Homo sapiens: one gene and its partner. The protein of the gene in region 1 purifies or fractionates together with the protein of each later gene. This does not show direct contact. Each region holds a gene or a part of one and is shown on either strand. Other genes may lie near its edges.

The links.
Region 2: the proteins of ECI1 (region 1) and REXO2 fractionate together in Homo sapiens (co-fractionation; one large-scale study listed by BioGRID). This does not show direct contact.

The regions. Positions count from the first base shown.
Region 1 is NC_000016.10:2,245,088-2,248,587, reverse strand, and holds part of ECI1 (enoyl-CoA delta isomerase 1, mitochondrial isoform 1 precursor), read left to right. Parts: intron 1-1,601; coding exon 1,602-1,729; intron 1,730-3,500. UniProt on the Homo sapiens protein: Key enzyme of fatty acid beta-oxidation. Able to isomerize both 3-cis (3Z) and 3-trans (3E) double bonds into the 2-trans (2E) form in a range of enoyl-CoA species, with a preference for (3Z)-enoyl-CoAs over (3E)-enoyl-CoAs.
Region 2 is NC_000011.10:114,442,467-114,445,966, forward strand, and holds part of REXO2 (oligoribonuclease, mitochondrial precursor), read left to right. Parts: intron 1-1,389; coding exon 1,390-1,467; intron 1,468-2,074; coding exon 2,075-2,186; intron 2,187-3,500. UniProt on the Homo sapiens protein: 3'-to-5'exoribonuclease that preferentially degrades DNA and RNA oligonucleotides composed of only two nucleotides. Binds and degrades longer oligonucleotides with a lower affinity.

The DNA.
Region 1 (3,500 bases):
GCAAAAATTAGCCAGGCATGGTGGTGTGTCCTGTAATCCCAGCTTCTCAGGAGGCTGAGGCAGAAGAATGGCTTGAACCCAGGAGGCAGAGGTTGCAGTGAGCCGAGATAGCGCTGCTGCACTCCAGCCTGGGCAACAGAGCGAGGCTCTTGTCTCAAAAAAAAAATAAAGATAGAAAATGGTTAATTTGGCCGGGCATGGTGGCTCACACCTGTAATCCCAGCACTTTGGGAGGCCGAGGCGAGGTGTTCACGAAGTCAAGAGATCGAGACCATCCTGGCCAACCAACATGGTGAAACCCCATCTCTACTAAAAATACAAAAATTAGCTGGGCATAGTGGCGCATACCTGTAGTCCCAGCTACTCAGGAGGCTGAGGCAGGAGAATCGCTTGAACCCGGGAGGTGGACGTTGTAGTGAGCTGAGATCGCGCCACTGCACTCCAGCCTGGGCGACGAGCGAGACTCTGTCTCAGAAAAAAATGATAGAGAGAGAAAGAGAGAATGGTTGATTTAAAAAGCATGCAGTTTATATAGAATAAATAAAATTGTTAATTTATGTTATATCGATCTTACTTCAATGTAAAAAACCAAGGGCTCACTCCTGTAATCTAGCACTTTGGGAGCCTGAGGCAGAAGGACCACTTAAGCTCAGGAGTTCAAGACCAGCCTGGGCAACAAAATAAGACCTCGTCTGTACTAAAAAATAAAAAAGATTAACTGGGTGTGGTGGCGCTTGCCTATAATCCCAGCTACTCAGCAGGCTGAGTTGGGAGGATCGCTGGAGCCCAGGAGGTCAAAGCTGCAGTAACCAGAGATCACACCCCTGCACTCCTAGGTGATAGAGTGAGACCCTGTCTCAAAAATAATAATAATAAAAAAATAACCCCCAGGCCGGGCGCTGTGGCTTACGCCTGTAATCCTGGCACTTTGGGAGGCCGAGGCGAGCGGATCACCTGAGGTTGGGAGTTCAAGACCAGCCTGACCAGCATGGAGAAAACCCCGTCCCTACTAAAAATACAAAATTAGCTGGATGTAGCGGCACGCACCTGTAATCCTAGCTACTCGGGAGGCTGAGGCAGTCGAATCGCTTGAACCCAAGAGGCAGAGGTTGCGGTGAGCCAAGATCGCTCCATTGCACTTGAACCTGGGCAACAAGAGCAAAACTCCGTCTCAAAAAAGTAAATAAAAATAGGACCAGGCGCGGGGGCTCACGCCTGTAATCCCAGCACTTTGGGAGGCCGACGTGGGCAGATCGCGAGGTCAAGAGATCGAGCCCATCCTGGCTAACACGGTGAAACCCTGTCTCTACTTAAAAGAAAAAAATTATCCGGGCGTGGTGGTGGGCACCTGTAGTCCCAGCTACTCAGGAGGCTGAGGCAGGAGAATGGTGTGAACCCGGAAGGCAGAGCTTGCAGTGAGCTGAGATCGCGCCACTGCACTCCAGCCTGGGTGACAGAGCGAGACTCTGTCTCTAAATAAATAAATTAATAAATAAAACCCCCAAAATGCACAGCTATCATGGCTTAGTTGAGGGTGCAGGCTGGTCAGGCTGCTTTTCCAGTGCCAGGTGTGAGCTTTCTCTTCTCATTCTTTAAATTAGGGGTCGCTGTGATGAAATTCAAGAACCCCCCAGTGAACAGCCTGAGCCTGGAGTTTCTGACGGAGCTGGTCATCAGCCTGGAGAAGCTGGAGAATGACAAGAGCTTCCGCGGTGTCATTCTGACCTCGGTAGGTGCTAGTTCAGCTCCCTACCCCAGCCCGAGTTCTTGGCCTGAGTTCTCTGATGTGAGCCCAGGCCTGTTGCACATGGAAGAGGCAGAGCCTGCCAACGTGTGGCACAGGCCAGCCGGCAGCCCCACCACCCTGGACTCCAGGCGCCTTCACGGGAGGCTTCCAGGAGCACCGTCTGGGTGTGCCCCAGCAGGGACCCAAACTGCCATGGGCCTCAAGCAGATCATTCCCAAAGGTGAAGGTGGACCAGTCTCAGAGACAGCCTTCCCAGGAGACAGCTTTCCCAAGAGACGCCCTTCCCGGGAGACAGCCTTCCCAAGAGGCAGCCCTCCTGGGAGACCGCCTTCCTGGGAGACAGCCTTCCCTGCCCGGGCCGTCGTCCAGGCGGACACTGGGGAGAGCTGTGGGCAGCGAGTGAGGGAGAGCCATGCATCTATGGGGTCACCTTGGACCCTAAGCACACCTGGTGGTGGGTTCCTGGAGTGCTCCCCACTAGGATCACTTGGGTGCCCTGAGCCAGTCCTGCGAACAATACCCATGCTCTCTGATCCTCTGTGGGCCAGTCTTCAGGGCGAGTTCTCAAGGGTGAACCTCTTTGGTCTGAGTTCTTGTGCAGGGGACTCTAAATGTTGCCTGAGTGCTGGCGAACGCTAGGCGTGTCATCTGTGGGAACGGTGTCATTACCAACATCGCCGAGGGGCAGTAAGCAGTGTCAGGCCCAGGAGGATGGGACCCTTGAGGAGAAGCGGGCATTGGCTGAGGTGAGGGGAGTGAGGGGTCCTCGGAGGCTGGCGTGGCTTTACAGGGCCTGGCCTAGAACTCCTGACCTCAAGTGATCTGCCCACCTCGGCCTCCCAAAGTGCTGGCCACGTCCAGCCTTATATATTTATTGAGACAGAATCTCCCTCTCTTGCCCAGGCTGGAGTACAGTGACGTGATCTTGGCTTACTACAACCTCCGCCTCCTGGGTTCAAGCGATTCTTGAATCTTGAAAATTTTTAAAATTTTTGGGAGAGACAGTGCCTTTATTGCCCACGTTGGTCTTGAACTCCTGGGCTCAAGCACTCCTCCCACCTCGGCTCCCCAGTGTGCTAGGATTACAGGTGCGAGCCATTGCACCTGGTTAATTTTTTTGCTTAATTTTTACTTTTTTGTACAGGCGGGGTCTTGCTATGTTGCCCAGGCTGGTCTTGAACTCCTGGCCTCAAGCAGTTCTCCAATCTTGGCCTCCCAAAGCTCTGGGATTACAGGCATGAGCCACCACGCCAGGCCTGGGTTTTGAGTAACGGAAGTAGAACGCGTTTTGTAGAAACAAAGGACCGGCCTACCCATTCTGTGCGGCACCAGCTCACACCTGTTTGGGAACAGCGGAGCTGCGTTGCCCACCCGCACCGTTCCTGGCTTTTTCACATCGCCTGAGGATGTGGAGGCCATCCCATCTGTCCCAGCCGCCTCCTCCTCGCACACATTAGGTGGCTGTCGCCCTCCTTCCTGCAGACAGGGCGGGGTAAACATCCACCCAGCTCTGCTTGTGTGAGTCAGGGTGAGCTGGGTTCAGCTGCAGGAACAAGTTCACCCACAGCCTTGGGGGGTCTGGCCCTCGGGAGGAAAACGTGCCGTGTTGTGCAGAGGGGAAGGTACCCTTGTCATTTGCTCAGGGGGCTGTGACCATGCAGGGTCCCCAGGGTGGGTTCTCCACTCCTCCCCGAGCCCGCCTCCCTGGCCGGCAGCCCTGACTGGGAGTCTGAGGCTCCTGTGCTGGCGCCCG
Region 2 (3,500 bases), on another chromosome or scaffold:
TTCGCAGAGATTACCAACACCAGTTTTCTTGTTTGGCTAAATCTCCTTTTTAGTAGTAGGATGTCAGGCGTATTTTAATTAAATTCTAGCCATTTCTTTCAGTGATTGTGAACTGTTTTTACCACCTTAGTAGTAATAATACCTTGGATTTATGGAATACTTTTCTATCAGAGAGTTCAAAGAGCTCATATCTATAATTTCTTTTATCCTGTTAACATTTCTATGAGGGAAGGGGTACAGTTTATTATTATCACTATCTTACAGAGGGAGAAGCTGAGGTGACTTGCTTTAATGCCGTAGCTACTGTTAACTGCCAGGACTTATCTGAGAGACTCATACTTGGATGTTCTATGAAATGGAGCTGAGAATTTGAGGGCTACTTTGTGTTTTGGATATCAACAATTACCTCTTTAATTTTTTTTTAAATATAAAAATACTGTTAAAACAGTGTAACTATCCAAAGTATGTGTGTAGTGAACTATTGGATTTTTGTCCTGTTCTATTGCTCCTTCTTACTCCAAGTTTATGTATTGTCTTGATATTTTGTATGTTTATATAAATGCGTGTTTTTTTTAAAACAAGTGTAAATGAAATCATACCTATACATACATGGTTTTGCAATTGTTTTTTTCACCTGCAATATAGATACTTTTTTTTTTTAAGAGATAGGGTCTCACCCTGTCACCCAGGTTGGAGTGCAGTGGCATGTAGCTCACTGTAACCTCGAACTCCTGGGTTCAAGTGATCTTCCTGCCTCAGCCTCCTGAGAAGCTAGGACTGTAGGGGTGTGCCACCAGGCCCACCTAATTTTTTTTTTTTTTTTTTTAATTTTGTAGAAATGAGGTCTTGCTATGTTGCCTGGACTGGTCTTGAACTACTGGCCTCAAGTGATCCTCCCACCTCGGCCTCCCAGAGTGCTGGGATTACCATGCTTGGCCTAGACACTTTTCAAAATGAACTCATAATCAAGGGTTGACAGACTTTTCTGGAAAGAGCAAGTTATTAAATTGTTTAGGCTTTGAGTGCAGTCATATGTTCTTGTCATATGTTCTTTTTTTTTTTTAAACAATCTTTTACAAATGTAAAAATCATTCTTAGCTTTCTAGCTATTAATAAATAGCTGAAGTGTGGGGCCATAGTTTGCTGACCCTTGATAGATATCTGTGTCATCTATTTGTAGGATTAGAGTTTTCAGTGGTGTGTGTATGTTCGTATGTTCTATTTTGCCTTAATGAACAGTGCTGGAATGAAGGGGGAACACTTAAAGTATCCTTATCTCTTACTTTCTCTGATATGTATATTTAGTCCTTAAAACAGCTTAAGCTTTCCCTCTGAAAGTAAGGTTATTCCTGTTGTTTCTTGGTGACTGATGGCGTTTCCCATCCACAGGGTCCTAACCTGATTATAAAACAACCAGATGAGTTGCTGGACAGCATGTCAGATTGGTGTAAGGAGCATCACGGGAAGGTAACATTACCAAATAACAGGATTGCTGCTTTGGGGATCAGTAGCAAGCTTTTTGCTCCCACACCTGAATCCGATACCATTGTTGGATGGTATTTTAAAAAGGCTTAGAGAAGATTGCATGGCAAGCCTGGGAAACTGCTTGCTTGTTTACTTTTCATCTTTGGGACCTCTCGAGATCATCTTCTCCTGAATGTCCTCTTTTTTTTCTCTCCTACATTCAGTCTGTCGCGAACGCATTGTGGATTGTCAAGTATTACTCAAGTCAGTCTTTTGGATAAGGTTAGACATCAACTTTCAGAGAAGGGGGATTGCTGCTCTCCTGTTAATAGTTGTTTCTTCCCAGAGGTTAATATCCTTGGACTTTGAACACCGTCTTTTTTGACTGTGGACATGCTATTAACAGTCAGGATCATAACTAAGTTGGCTTGGATTCTTGAAGAAAAAAAAATGGTGCAAAGATGGCAGTTGCAATTTGAACTTGAGCTCTAAAAATGGTCTATTTGTGGTTATATTTGCCCATTTTAAAAGTGAAATTTCATTTCTGGATGCCTTTGAAAACTGACTTTACATGTGTTTTTGGTGGGGGGCTGGGGATTCTCTCTTGCAGTCTGGCCTTACCAAGGCAGTGAAGGAGAGTACAATTACATTGCAGCAGGCAGAGTATGAATTTCTGTCCTTTGTACGACAGCAGACTCCTCCAGGGCTCTGTCCACTTGCAGGTAAAATCCAATCCTGTGTATATCTTATAGTCTTCCATATGTAGTGGTTCAAGAGACTGCAGTTCCAGAAAGACTAGCCGAGCCCATCCATGTCTTCCACTTAACCCTGCTTTGGGTTACACATCTTAACTTTTCTGTTCAAGTTTCTCTGTGTAGTTTATAGCATGAGTATTGGGAAAATGCCCTGAAACCTGACATGAGATCTGGGAAACACAAACTTACTCAATAAGAATTTCTCCCATATTTTTATGATGGAAAAATTTCACATGCACAGAGGAGTGGATTTAGTAATTGTTAACCTTGTGTCGTATTTGTTTTACCTATTTTTTGTTGGACATTTTAAAGGAAATTGCAGGCATCAGGACACTTCATTCCTAAATACTTCATCAAACATCTCCTAAGATAAAGACATTTTCTTATGTAATACAATGTCATTGCATTGAAGATAATTAAACATTATTCAGTATCATATGATATCTAGTCCACATTAGATGTTCCCCAAAATATTTGTTTTTGAACCAGGATTCAGTCAAGGCTCGTGCATTTCATTTAGTTATATTTCTTTAGTCTCTTAATGTAAAACTTTCCACCTATTATTTTTCCCCTGTGTCATTGACTTTCTAAAGAGACCAGGCCTGTTCTACCAGGATTTTTAAAAGGGTGACATTGCCAGAGGGAAGTTAATGTTTCTCTGAAGGTATATGTACGTTTGTATATGTAAGTCGATGTGGTAGCTAATACTGTTCTTAAACATTTATAAAAATAAGTTTTGGCATTAAGTACTAGAGCATATATTGTGTAAATGTTTCCGCCAGCCAATGTGGCTGATATCTGTTTTAAAGGTCTCATTTAAAATTTAGTGTTTTTAGTATAAGTTACTTTTTGGGGACATAAATATGCATATGATTTGTTTAAAAATTTGGATTGTAAATAAAGGTTTATCTACCTATGTGATTCAGTTAAATTTTTAGTGTTAGTGGTGTGAATTTTGTGACACTGGGAGAAAGTTTGCATATCAGGTATGACCTTAGAAAGTAACAAATAGATTTGTGCATTACATCAAGCATGTGGAATGATAGATTTGTCCTTCTGTTCATGAGAGGTCATTTACAAATTTATAAGGAGCTAAACTGACTAAGTACTTGGAAATCTGTACTTGTAAGCTAATCACATTTACCCAAACCTGATTTAGAAATATAGAGGTGCTTTTAGGAATTGTTTGAATTTTAAAAAATCATCTCCATTTCAAATACAACTTATGAATTTTGATATCCTGTTGTATAATACTAGAAATATAGAGATGCAGTATGCTTC